Linked DNA regions of Homo sapiens. The protein of the gene in region 2 purifies or fractionates together with the protein of the main gene of each other region. This does not show direct contact. Each region holds a gene or a part of one and is shown on either strand. Other genes may lie near its edges.

The links.
Region 1: the proteins of SLC7A14 (region 2) and GPR89A purify together in Homo sapiens (affinity purification with mass spectrometry, with the first as the bait; one large-scale study listed by BioGRID). This does not show direct contact.
Region 3: the proteins of SLC7A14 (region 2) and DNAJC11 purify together in Homo sapiens (affinity purification with mass spectrometry; one large-scale study listed by BioGRID and IntAct). This does not show direct contact.
Region 4: the proteins of SLC7A14 (region 2) and PLXDC2 purify together in Homo sapiens (affinity purification with mass spectrometry; one large-scale study listed by BioGRID and IntAct). This does not show direct contact.

The regions. Positions count from the first base shown.
Region 1 is NC_000001.11:145,610,988-145,614,487, forward strand, and holds part of GPR89A (Golgi pH regulator A), read left to right. Parts: intron 1-1,214; exon of another isoform or gene 1,215-1,260; intron 1,261-3,500. UniProt on the Homo sapiens protein: Voltage-gated channel that enables the transfer of anions such as iodide, chloride, bromide and fluoride which may function in counter-ion conductance and participates in Golgi acidification.
Region 2 is NC_000003.12:170,576,076-170,579,575, reverse strand, and holds part of SLC7A14 (solute carrier family 7 member 14), read left to right. Parts: intron 1-3,500. UniProt on the Homo sapiens protein: Imports 4-aminobutanoate (GABA) into lysosomes. May act as a GABA sensor that regulates mTORC2-dependent INS signaling and gluconeogenesis. The transport mechanism and substrate selectivity remain to be elucidated.
Region 3 is NC_000001.11:6,649,817-6,653,316, reverse strand, and holds part of DNAJC11 (dnaJ homolog subfamily C member 11), read left to right. Parts: intron 1-365; coding exon 366-488; intron 489-1,714; coding exon 1,715-1,788; intron 1,789-3,500.
Region 4 is NC_000010.11:20,144,932-20,148,431, reverse strand, and holds part of PLXDC2 (plexin domain-containing protein 2 isoform 1 precursor), read right to left. Parts: intron 649-3,500; coding exon 530-648; intron 1-529. UniProt on the Homo sapiens protein: May play a role in tumor angiogenesis.

The sequences.
Region 1 (3,500 bases), on a different chromosome or scaffold from region 2:
ACTCTGTACAATTCTGAAAGTATCAAGTCTCATTTTTAATAAGAAGCTATACGCCTTCCATTTTATTTGCAAAGCTATTTGAAATTGCATTTTGCTTCTGCTTTCTTTTTGGATCCTCTATAATCTTGCCAGAATTTGTGTTTACTTGGATGTAAATGAATTCTCCAGCTACTTGTGTGTGTGTGTGTGTGTGTAGTTTAAGTCTTTTTTTTTTTTTCAACTTTTATTTTATTTTAGATTTGGTACTTGTGCCGGGTATATTGTGGGAGCTCAGGTTTGGGGTACAAATGATCCGGTCACCCAGGTACTGAGCATAGTACTCAATAATTAGTTTTTCAACCCTTCCCCCTTCTCCCCTCCCCTGCCCCCAAGTAGTCTCCAGTTTCTGTTTTTGCCATCTTTATGTTGGTGAGTACCCAATATTTAGCTCCCACTTAGAAGTGAGAACATGTGGTATTTGGTTTTCTGTTCTTGCATTAATTTGCTTAGGATGATGGCCTCTAGCTGCATCTATGTTGCTGCAAAGGACATAATTTTGTTCTGAAAGTCTTTTTAAGCTTTTCTTTTTCAATGTGAAAGGAGGCCACAATGAAATATTAAAGGTATATATCTGTTTCTCTTTTCTTCCATTCCCCTCCCCACCATATAAACTTAAAATTTTTGCTTGTTTTCTCTTCCATTTCATAGCAATCTTGGTGATTTTTTTTTTAATCATCCATTTCCACTATACATACCACCCTCAGTCCTAACTGCCCAACTTCTCTGTCTTCAGTCGTGGCTTCATAAGTCATATAAATATGGTCTCTAAACTCTGAATTTACATCTGTCTCCACCGGTAAATATTTATAATAGCCAAAGGATATCCTGGACATTTTCTCCTAATCTGTTTGACCCTTTCCTTTTCTGCTTGATCTAGATGCTTGGATCCAACTTACTTTCTTACACCCTCTTGTTCGTTTACCTTCATGTATATATAAGTCCACACTTGGATCACTGCTATAGTTTGTTTACTACTAATACAGAGGCCTGAAGGCTACTATAGAAAATCACATAGCTGTGTAGTTTGCCAACGCCAGGAGTTTAACCCTCAGCTCACTGAATTATTCCTTTTCTTGACCTTAATCAGCTACTTGTTTCATTCCCCTCAAAGTTTCTCCGAATCTTTGTCACTCTCCTCAAAGCTCCTTTTTCTAACTCACCTCTCTTACTCTTAGCAGATAACCTTGCCTCGTACTTACTCAACAAAAGTGAAGCCAAAAGGTATGATCTCCTACTATGAATACTTTCTGCATTTTAATCTAAAAGGTTATCTGTGTTCACAACCATTCTTACCTCCTTTCCTCCCATTTCAGAAAACGGGGTTCCCCTACTCCGGTTTAAAGCCATTCTACCTACCTTTGATCTTAGAGTAGCGTATTTTGAAGTGGTTAAAAGCACAGATTTTCTAAACAGACAGACTCAATAAGAGCTGAAAAAATAATATTTAAAAAAAAGCACAGATTTTGGAGTCAAACAAGCTTGAGTTCAATCTTGATTCTGACACTTACTATAAATTGATTAACTTCTCTAAACCTCATCTTTCTCCGTGAAAATAGGATAATCAAACCACTGTACTGAGTTTTTAATTATTTTTATAAGATTATAATGCTAAGTACTACTTAGAGAGCCTGTAGTATAGTAAATGCTCAATAAAAGTTACCTAATCATATTAATAATAGTATTATCAGTTTATCCTCTAGTATTCCACCATCCTTCTCATCTTTTTCTCCTTACTTGACTGCTTTCTTTCCCCTTGGCCAATAAACTTTCCCTTTATTCCACATTCTTCTCTAGCCTATTATCTAATGTTTTCTTTTTTTCTCATTCCTGGCTCTCCCTAGAGTAATTTGCATTTACTGTCCCCACTGCTTTAGCTCCCATTCATTCTGACCTGCTACACTCTGGTTCCTGCCTCTACCTCACTATTCAAAATTGTTTTCCTTATCCTCTAGTGTTTTCTTCTTGGCACATTGCTCTCCTTACTCTAGATACTATTCCCAGGTGATCTCATGTACTTTGGTGGTTTCAACTCATAGGTATATCTTAGACCTGCCTTCACAATCTGTCTTTTATTCCAGATACTTGCTGGATATCTTGATCCATCTTGCTGGCTGTCCCTCAGGCCCTTAGTGTGTTCAAAAATGAGCTCATCATTTTCCCCATCCTCTGCCCCCTTTCCTAAACCTCTTCTTTCTCCAGTATTCTTTATATAAATTGGGTAGCTTCACTCTTCATCCTGTATTCCAAACTAGTCATCCTTGACTTCTCCCTGTTGATTTTACCTTCTAAATAGTTCTCAAATCTGTTTTCTCCTCTTCTGTCACCAAATGTCTTAATTCAGGGCTTTATCATCTTTCATCTGAATTCCCATAACACATTTCTATAATGTTTCTCTTTCTACACTGTTGTTTCCTTCAAGTGTGTCTTCCATACAGCCACCATACCGCTCTATATAATATAAAACAAATCAGACCATGCCATTTCCCTGCTTAAATAACCCTCATCACCTACAGACTATAATCTAAGCTCCTTAGGGTGGCCTTCAAAGCTCTCAGTGATTGGACATCCACTCCTCCTGTCTAGCCTCATTTTTAACCTCTTCCTTCTTTGAATTTCATCTTCTAGCAGCACCAAACCATGTGTAGTTCCCGGCATATACCATGCTATTCACTCTGCGCCTTTACTCATGCCCTTTGCTATCTGGAAAGCCCTGTCCTCCTACCCCTACCACCTGTTTTTACCCTACCTGATTCGTTTTTTGTTTGTTTGTTTTGTTTTGAGACAGGGTTTCGCTCTGTCACCCAGGCTGGAATGCAGTGACATGCTCACAGCTCACTATAACGTCTACCTGCCAGGCTCAAGTGGCCCTTCCACTTCAGCCTCCCCATAAGCTGGAACTACAGGCACGCACCACCATACCTAGCTAATTTTTGTATTTTTTGTAGAGATGGGGTTTCACCACGTTGCCCAAGCTGGTCTCGAACTCCTGGGCTCAAGCGATCTACCCAAAGTGCTGGGATTACAGACGTGAGCCACCATGTCCAGCCTCCCTACTTGATTCTTATTCATCCTTTGAGAGGATGGTTTTTATGTTAGGGGTGGTGGAAACCTTTGACTGTGTGATGAATACCTTGAAACCACTCTAGAAAAATGCACATAACCCCAAAATGTGCATACAATATCAGGTTTTAACCCCAAATTAAAACTTCCTTCGGCTCGGGCATTATCTTCTCCAGAAAATCTGTCCTAACCCCTTACAGATTGGTTTGGTCTCCCTCTTTCATATTGTTTTACAATATCATGTATGTATTTCTATCATTGCACATCCATATTATGTTATAATTATTTATGTACTGTCTTCACTATATTGTGAGCTCCTAGAGGGTAGTAACCATCCTATTCATCTTTGTATCCTCAGCACTTAGCATAGCACGTAGGAGTTATTACAGAAAATTTAAGAT
Region 2 (3,500 bases):
AACAGCTCATTCTATTCTAGCAAGTCAATAAGGAAACGCCTAGAATTAACTGATTCTTATTTGCCAAAGGCAAAATATTCCAACCCAATGAACAACAAATGATCAAGCTGGTTCTCATTTTCTCTTCATTTTAAAAAAATTTTTCCATGTTTTTGAAAAATAATCAGTAAATAAGAAACAATTGCACCCAGGTGTTTAAACATTCTGTTGACAAAATGGTCTTCAGAAATGGAAAGGCTTAATTGTTTGTTAGAGATTATACAACATATTATTATGTCAATATTTTATAACAATCACATAACTGAACTCTCTCACTTTAGAGAGAAATTGATGCTGGGAACACTCACCTGAGTTGATGTCAGAGGAATATGACTTGAGTCTTCTCTCTCTCAGGCAATTATAGAACCCACTCTGCATTTTTTAACATCATGCATCATTTCATTAGTCATGAAAACTTGTTTAGTCTATGAGTTTATCAAAGATTCAGGTTTATCTTTTCTCAAAGATTCAGGGAGTAGGAAAGAGTATGTGTTTGGATTTCAGATTATTTCCCTTTGTACCTCCAGGTGAAAGAACTACTGGTCAAGGATGGTCAGCAGGTAGAAATTTCAGGGGTGGAACTATAAGCCATAGAAAAAGATTCAAAACCTCAGCATCATCCATGTTGCAAGAACTTAGGCAAGGATTTAACTCTTCTTACTTTTTAATCTTCATCCCTAAAAGAAGTTATTTAGATTAAATAGTGTACAATATCCTGCAAGCCATAACATTCTATGGTTCGATGAAATAGGGCCAAGAGCTTGAATAATCCATTATTTGCCTCCTTAAGACCGAAGAATTAAACATAAATCAAGATTCTTATTTTTACATCATTATTTATCAGAAGTTCTGAATTTCATGCTAGTACCTTACCTGGAAACAATAATGATAATGATAGCTAATACTTATATACAATTACTATGACTTTATAAGGTTGGTAATGCTATCATCGCCATTTTACAGATGAGAAACCTGGATACTAAAGTAGTTAAATTACCTGCCCAATTTGACACAGGTAACAAGTTTGTGCTACCATGCTACACCGCCTCTATAAAAACCACAAATCTGACAGATAGATAGCTGATGTGTGCCATTTATAGCCACTTGACACACCAGCCAATTCTCTGGAGAATTTCTATTTTAGCTCAATTTTTTACTAGAAGAGCAACCAAGATGGTGAATAGAACTTCAGTCCTGTGTGTGGGAATCTACATTGTCTTTCTGTAAGATGGCTCTTGTGCTTTTGCAATTGATGTCATTGACCAATTGTTTACGTGATTCAGCATTGAATGTTGGTGCTGTGCAGGTGGCTGCATGTGGTGAGGACCACTCTTCTGCCTCTTCCCAGAATGTGTGGCCAGCCACACCACCAGAAATAGATGGATGCTGGTGCAGGATCAATCCAGCACCTTCTAATGCTATAAAGGTCAGCCCACCACATCTTTACTGTTCAGTAGAGTCTTCTAGCTTCTGCCTTTAGGTTTTTGACTCAGTGTAACAATCTAGACAGCTTTTACAGTAGAGAGGGAGAGCTCCCAGAGTGTCATTTCCTGGAGGTAGGCTTGGGTCAAGGCTAAGACTAAAACTTTCAAAATCATGTTGTGAAAATCGTTTTCTTCTCATTAATCCTATGTTAACAAATTAGTCATAAATACAATACACCACAGTACCCATCTGTTTCACTGTGTATTTCAATGTACTGAATATACAAATGGGCATTTAGCTCTTAATATGGTATATCTAACCAGCTGAGAATGCTCTGACAGTAGTCAAATATACATGTTTATTCTTTAGCTCTAGTTTCTGGCTTGTTAAACTAGCTACATATCCCATCAACACCAAGGCCAATTACGGAATACATAACTCTACTTCTTCCTCTGTGGTTTTCTTTTTTTTTTTTTTTTTTTTTTTTGAGACGGAGTCTCGCTCTGTCGCCCAGGCCGGACTGCGGACTGCAGTGGCGCAATCTCGGCTCACTGCAAGCTCTGCTTCCCGGGTTCACGCCATTCTCCTGCCTCAGCCTCCCGAGTAGCTGGGACTACAGGCGCCCGCCACCGCGCCCGGCTAAGTTTTTGTATTTTTAGTAGAGACGGGGTTTCACCTTGTTAGCCAGGATGGTCTCGATCTCCTGACCTCATGATCCACCCGCCTCGGCCTCCCAAAGTGCTGGGATTACAGGCGTGAGCCACCGCGCCCGGCCTCCTCTGTGGTTTTCTAGATACTCTGTGGGGAGCGGGATGGCCTAGGAGTCAGAAGATCTGCTTTCCAGACTCAGCTTTGAAATGTACTACCTGTGACACTTGGGCCAGCACCATTCACTACTTCAAGACTGAACTTCCTTACCTTTAAAATAGGGGTAATAGATCTTGCCCCTCACATTACAAATAGGGCCAGTGAGATGGCATTAATTAAAGCTCCTTGTTAACCATAGAGTTAGTCCAGAGGAAAGAGATGGGTTTTCCATCCTTTCAGTCTTTCCCAGCCAGAAATTACTCTCAAGCTGTTGATACCCAATTCTGAACCAGGGTTGACAGCTAAATCAATGTCTTCAAGGTTAAGAAGAGCTTGGATTTAAATTTGTAAATCTAGAAAATGGCACTTACAATAGGAGAGGCCTCCTGGTTTCTTCCAAATTAATGGTCCTCAACCTGAGGCAATGTCACCTCAATAAGGGGTATTTTATATTGTCACAGATACTGGAGGAGAGGGGAGTTACTACTGACTTTTGGTGGACTGGGATCTAGAATGTTAAATATCCTGCATTAGACAGAAAAATCCTGCAGAATAAAAAATGTCCTGTCCAAAATGCCAATAGCACTCCACCCCCACTGAAAAATACCGCTCTAAGTAATGTGCTGTTCCTGGTCCCTAATTCTCCAATTGATGCAGACAGAGAGCGTTTACTTTTCATCTCCACCCACAGGTGAAATCCAGCCATGCTCATGTGAGGTCTGTAGTAGTTATTGTTCAGAAGTATGACCAGACTTCCAGTAAGTTTACCAATAAGTAAAACAATGGGGTCAGAGATCAGTGGTTTTAAAATTAGCCCCCAGAAGCTCCTACAAAAAGCCTCCTCCAACCTCTGCAGGGGCAAAGATTCCCAGCAGGTTAATATGCCTATAATGTGAGAGCTGGCCTAAAGGTTGGCATTTAGGGATGCAAAATCAGTAAATCATGATTCTAAAATGACTATCTTTGCAATTTATTGAAGAAACATTGTAATATTCACTTGTTTTATGACAAGCATGGGCCTAGCTAGGCACTGGATATGAGACATAATCCCTGCCTCAAGTCACCAGTAATCTGAAAGTTCCACAGATGTAATCCCCACTAATTATGTATGCAACATGACACATGCTATAACATATTATGAGGGAGCCTCCAAGGAGAGACCAGGAAACAATTCACTTCCACAGAGGAAATTATAATTGAACAGTATCTTGAATGGTATATAATATTTT
Region 3 (3,500 bases), on a different chromosome or scaffold from region 2:
TACAGCCATGGGAAGGTCTTCAGTCCCCCTGGAACCCTGATGGCAAACCACAGAGGGAAGGCACACAGTGAAGTCACTGTGCTATCTGATACCATTGGGACATGCAGCCCCATGTTTCCCCTGGTGTTGTGAAATGTGCCCATTAAAGCTTTTGCAAAGCATATTACCCTCGTGGTCACATGCAGACCAAATAACAAAGCGGAAGAAAAGTGAAGCTGTTGCGGCAGTTCTGCATCCATGTGTGCTTCTGAACAGAGGAATCGTCTGCACCTTTGGCCTTGGGCTCACAGTGCGTTCTTTAGGCTGCTGCCATTGGCACTTCCTGTTGTTTTGATTCATTCATTACCAGCAAATACCATTTTTAGGCACCCTTGACAGCGACAGACACAGCCATCCTCTCTGGAAGCCTCTCAACCCAGAATGGAAATGGAGGAGGTTCCATTAACTTTGCGCTCAGACGAGTAACTTCGGCAAAGGGATGGGGAGAGGTAAGAATGTCTATTGGCTGAGTTGTGTTGTCTGTGCAAAGCCTTATTTCTGAACATTTACACTCTCAAAGCTCACCCTCAAACTCACCCTGGGGGCCCCGTTGTTGTGTAAGAACGGTACCAAGTGTCAAGCTTCCATAAGTTGACTGGTCCTAAAAGAAAAATAGGTCTCATGAGCCTGGCCAACATGGTGAAACCCCGTCTCTACTAAAAATACAAAACTTAGCTGGGCATGGTGGCACCTGCCTGTAATCCCAGCTACTTGGGAGGCTGAGGCAGGAGAATCACGAGAATCACATGAACCCAGGAGGCAGAGGTTGCAGCGAGTCAAGATCGCGCCGTTGCACTCCAGTCTGGGGGACAAGAGCAAAATTCCGTCTCAAAAATAAATAAATAAATAGGTCTCATATCTGAGAAGTCCTGTCAGTCTTCCTCACAGTTTAAAATTGGCATAGAAAAACAAGGTTTCCTATGAGATGCCAACTTCTAGAAATCCAGCCTCTGAAACTCCGTGTGTTTGTTCCCTTTGAGCAAAAAGCCTGTGGGCTCTTTTTCCTGCACAATTCAGAAGGCAGGTGCTCTCTTCCGCGTGATGGTTCACTGATTGGTGGCCATTTAACAGCCAGTTCTGCCGAGCAAATTGAGCTGCATCAAATTAACATTGAAGAGTTGCTTGAAAGTCACCCAGACTAGTAAACACGGCAGCCAGGCTCAGCTGTGACTTCCAAGGCTGTGCGGGTGTGGAACCGCGGCTGGGCTTTAACATCAGGCTCCTGAGGACCGCCCCAGTGACCTGGGAGACATTTGGCGCAGGATGAAAATGAAAAGGAGTCGGCAGTGCATGCGGGGGTGGGGGGCACACCGGACCGCAGTCGGTGCTCTGCAGGTGGCGGGGGGCTGCGCCGGGAGGGGTAGGGGGAGCCAGCTGGTCTCCTGACCTCAGCCTGGGAGGCAAGGAACAGAGGGGAGCAGTTTTTTCTTTGGAGGGACACCAATGAAACATGTGCCTTTGAAGCCTGGGTCTCCTTTGGATCTGTGGCAGCAGACAGCTCCATTTGGCAAAGGTTAAGATGAGACATTAACAATCTTCCACCCCCTTCTTTTAGAGCCCTGGCAAGACCAGTGAATTGAATGAAGGAATTATACCTAGAGGTACATACCTGAGCCTGGGTTGCTGCTATGAGATAAAACACCATTAATGCCTTCTCTTTTTCCTTTTCAAACAGTTGGAATTTGGAGCTGGAGACCTACAGGGGCCTTTGTTCGGTCTCAAGCTGTTCCGTAATCTCACACCAAGATGGTAAATATGAGAGACAGCAGCTCCTCTTTGGTGGTCTTTGTTGGCTTAGGAGACTAGAACTGTGTGTTCTTTTTATCACAGTGGTTGGCACTATCTTGTCTGTCCTACAAGGTCACTGCGTACATCAAGGGCAGGTATAGCACTGGCGTGAAGCCCAGGCAGTGTGCAGGTGGGAAGAGGCAGGATTGAGGGGGCCGGACCCTTGTCCCAGCCCTGGCCAGGCTGCACCATCCAGGTCTCGCACCTCCCTTACCTATGCCACAAGGCCACGGAGAAAGAGTGCCTTCAGGGAGAGTTGGTCAGTGGACCGAAACACTTACAGACTTATGGATCGTTCCATTGTCCCAGAGAATGACAGACTGCCTCATCATCGGGTTGATTGACATATGCCAGAGATGTAGTCCCCAGCCAGCCTCTGCTTCCTGTCGTCTCTGCTGCTGCCATGTCACACTCCTAGAACTGTATATCCCTGTCCCTTCTAGAACGACAGCAGTGTCTTCATTTCCTATATGGTGGGTGCAGTGATGTCTGTGTGAGCTCAGATAAAAGAATTGGTGGAGGGTAAATAATACCTCTTTCTTCCAGAGGAAGATATAGCTGAAGGAGTCCTAGAATGGAGCACATGGAGTTTATTTTATTTATTTATTTATTTTGGAGACAGGGTCTTGCTCTGTCTTGCCCAGCCTGGAGTGCGGTGGTGTGATCTCGGCTCACTGCAGCCTCTGCCTCCTGGGTTCAAGCTATTCTCCTGTCTCAACCTTCCGAGTAGCTGGGACTACAGGCGTGTGCCACCACACCCAGCTATTTTTGTATTTTTAATAGAGATGGGGTTTCACCATGTTGGTCAGGCTGGTCTCGAACTCCTGACCTCAGGTGATCCACCTGCCTCGGCCTCCCAAAGTGGTGAGATTACAGGCGTGAGCCACCACGCCTGGCCTATTTTATTTTACTTTATTTTTGTTAGAGACGAGGTTTTGTTCTGTTGCCTAGGCTAGAGTGCAATAGTCCGATCATAGTCCACTGCAGCCTTGAACTCCTGGGGTCAAGCAGTCCTCCTCCCTCAGCCTCCCGAAAAACTAGGACTACAGGCGTGTGCCAACATGCCTGGCTCATTGTTTAGTTTTTTTTAGGGATAAGTTATCTCTATGTTGCCTAGGCTGGTCTCAAGCTCCTGGATTCAAGCAGTCCTCCCACCTTGGCCTCCCAAAGCACTGAGATTAGAAGCATGAGCCACTTCAGCAAGCCTGGAGTATATGTTTTTTGTTTTGAGACAGGTCTCACTTTGTCACCCCGGCTGGAGAATAGTGATGCAATCTTGGCTCACTGCACCCTCAACCTCCCAGGCTCAGGTGACCCTCCTGAGTAGCTGGGACTACAGGTGTGCACCACCATGCCTGACTAATTTTTGTAGAGTTGGGGTTTCTCCTTGTTGGCCAGGCTGGTCTCTTAACTCCTGACCTCAGGTGATCCTCCCACCTTGGCCTCCCAAAGTGCTGGCATTACAGGTGTGAGCCACTGTGCCCAGGCACAGTGGCATGAATAACTTTCTTATCAAACATGTATTGTAGGCTGTACAAACATGTACAAACATGTACAGGAGTTCGAGACCAGCCTGGCCAACATGGCGAAACCCCCTCTACTAAAAATATAAAAATTAACCAGGCATGGTGGCGCTTGCCTGTAGTCCCAGCTACTTGGGAGGCTGAGGTGGG
Region 4 (3,500 bases), on a different chromosome or scaffold from region 2:
AATTAATCTTTCCTATCTGGTTTCAACAAACATTAGCCAAAGCACAGCCATCCTAGAACTCTCTCAGTACTGGGTCCTTGAGCCACATAAGTTTTCGTGTCTATAAATGCTTTTGAAATTAGAACCAAAATATAACAAAGAAATCAACCAGGTGAAAAAAAAAAAACTAACTAAAGAAAATACGTAAATATAAACATTTACATTTAGATGAGAAATCCCTCCAAATTGAATTTTTTTTCTTAGAGACATTTCACTCTAATTACTCAATAATTAGTCAATATAATTACTCAATAATTTTATGAAATTGATGAGTCCTGATGCCAACAATATCAGAATACAAAAGAGCTAACAATCAATGCACCCAGAAAATTAAAACTAATCAAAACATTTTTTATTAAGCAAAGGAAACCAAGAGGCAAGAAAATGATTTGAGGATCATGGCTGTAAAATGTCCCTTTCTTGACATTTGGAGGAAAGGCAGCAGTCAAGAACAAGGGGAAGGGAAAGAAATTATCAACGCATCACTTACTTCTTTGTATCCAAAGATGATTCGTCCATCCATGAGCAGGGTTGCCTGGAATGTGAAGCTTCCCAGGTTATAATTATCCTGGAGATGTACATGGTCCCACTGGACCACAAGTGCTGTGCCTATACACCCATTGAAAAAAGAAGAAATGCAATGAGAAAAACATACCAATCAATTCTGGTGGGAGTTTTCACAAAAATGTTTTTGCATCTGGCCTTCAAATCTGGTAGTTGTACTATTTCGATTTTATGTGGTTAATCAAATTCTGTTATTGAAATAGCATTTGGGATTTTTTTTAAAGGATTGAGTACTCTCTAAATATTTAGTAAAATAGAACCTCATACTAAGGTCAATAATTGAGCTAATGCAGTGTGGGGGAATTTTGCCTTAGGAATTTTATTAATGTTAATAGATACTGTCTGCTTAAATTTCCATAAGCCACTTTCAAAATGCAGCCCAAGTGGATTGAATGAACTTCAAATACATTTGACAAATGCTGAGAGAGAAACACATCTAAAAAGTTAGGACCACATACAAAAGACCTGAAAATGTCTTTTCCATACTTAAAATTATACTTTTCCACATTGAAGGAGTTCCTTTAACACTAATGGGAATTTTCTCCTTGAGTTCACAATGCTTGTATTTCTGTCTTTGTTGTGTTTCTTCCAGGAAGCTGTAAGAAGCTCAAAGGGCCCTGGACTAAGATTTTTGAAGTCCCCTTGAAGCACACTGGGATGAAACTTCAGTGCTGTATATTATATTCTGAATCACTCTGTCAGTGTTTACCATAAACGATTGGGCATGAAATAAAAACTGAAACATAGTTTAATAGTCACCAGTGAGAATTCAAATTTTTGTTTTAACTGACATTGTGTACTCTCTTTTTTTAAAAAAAAAGAAAAGAAATGAGCTGCTAAGACTTTTTCTTCACTCTAAATATTAGATTTTTCTGTTTGGTTAGAAAAACTGTTGCCCAAAAAAGTTGTGCTGAAAATGAAAATCATAGAACTAAAAGAGCAAATCTTATCTCCCAGTAATAAATATCTGATATATTTAAAAATTACAATTGCATGGAAGAATTAATTTTCAGTAACTATTTGGTGCTATTAGTAATATCTCTTGAGCTGGTTGACAATTTTAAATAGACACATTATTTCAAATATTTTGAACACCCAATTGTAAGTCCTGAAAGGATGTTGAAGTAAAGAAATGTATTTCTTTTGAGGCAAAACTTTAAAAGTAAAAAAGAAAAAAAAGTTTTTTAACTTGACCTTGGTGCTTTTAGCCATTATCACTGCTGTGAGTGAAGACCACTCAGGTCTCTTCCTTCCACGGGCATCTCCGTGTCTATATTGTCCTGAGGGAGGGAGGGAGGGAGGGAGGGAGGAAGGAAGGAAGGAAGGAAGGAAGGAAGGAAAAAGAAAAGAAAAGAAAGAAAGGAAGGAAGGAAGGAAGAAAGGAAGAAAGAAAGAAAAAGAAAGAAAGAAAGAAAAGGAAGCAAGGAAGCAAGGAAGAAAGAAAGGAGGGAGGGAGGAAGGAAGGAGAAAAGAAAAGAAAGAAGGAAGAGAAAAGAAAAGAAGAGAAAACAAAAAAAATAGAGCAAAAGAAGACAGTAGCCAGGAAACCTCCCATGATTTTATAAGTATAGGAATTTTCTGATTGTGAAATGCCTCCTAACTTCTTTTTCCTTCACACATGTCTACAACCCTCAAGCTCTAGTCTATTCCTTATTTTCTAGTTTCTATCGCACTCTGGTGATGCAGTGAAAACAATGAACCAGAGGGCAGAAGACTTAGACTTGCATCTTGTCTCTATAAAACTTTCCATGTGAACTTGGACACAATTAATCTGCATGAACCCGTTTCCTTTCCTATAACATGGGGAGTATAGTTTTTGCCTTCAAGACATTCCTGCATTAAATACAAGAAAATATACTTACGCTTGATTATTTATGAAAATAAGAGGGCTATATAAATTAAAGTTTTTAATGCCAATTCTGAGGAAGGGATTCCTAATATTTTGTTAGTAGCAGGTTGTTAAAAACCACACTGTTGACCAGGTGCGGTGGCTCACAACTGTAATCCCAGCACTTTGAGAGGCCGAGGCAGGCGGATCACGAGGTCAGGAGATCCAGACCATCCTGGCTAACACGGTGAAACCCCATCTCTACTAAAAAAAATATTAAAAAATTAGCCGGGCGTGGTGGTGGGCGCCTGTAGTCCCAGCTACTCGGGAGGTTGAGGCAGGAGAATGGCATGAACCCGGGAAGCGGAGGTTGTAGTGAGCAGAGATCATGCCAGTGCAGTCCAGCCTGGGCGACAGAGTGAGACTCCATCTCAAAACACAAAAAACAAAAAAAAGTGTACTGTTTGCACATGTTAAGTTTTATATTATGTAATAGCATAGCTCTCTCAACATTTGCTGATTTAAATTTTCTAACCTGCTGCTGTCTTTTCCAGAGAAGTTTGCTTTCCTAAATTGTTGAGTTTCCAATCTTTAAGTATCCTGTCAATGATTCTAACTAAACTTGAAAATATTTCAGCAAGTTGTTGTGGTATTAAAAGGGCTTCGTGAAGAGTCTTACAGTGTTTAAAAGTGTTTCATTCATTTAATAAAACGTAAGTTTTCATTATCATATTGTTTGAACTCAATATTCCTCAATATTTGATTCCTATGGAATAAGTCATTACACAGAAGATATTTCAGTGGGTAAACAATACATGCATTCTTGAGTATTAATACTTTTACAATTCTCAGACATAAAACTCACTTTACGTATGTAATTATTTTTATTCATTCATTGAATAATTATTTAGGACCTACGTCCTAAATAATAAAGTGTCTATGCAGGGTACTGGAGATAAAATGATTTCTTATAGCCACAGTCCTTGTTTTTAAAGAACTTAAGAGTTCAGTTGGAGTAGTATACATCAATTTTTAAAAATCATTCAAATACGAGTAAAATTCAAATATT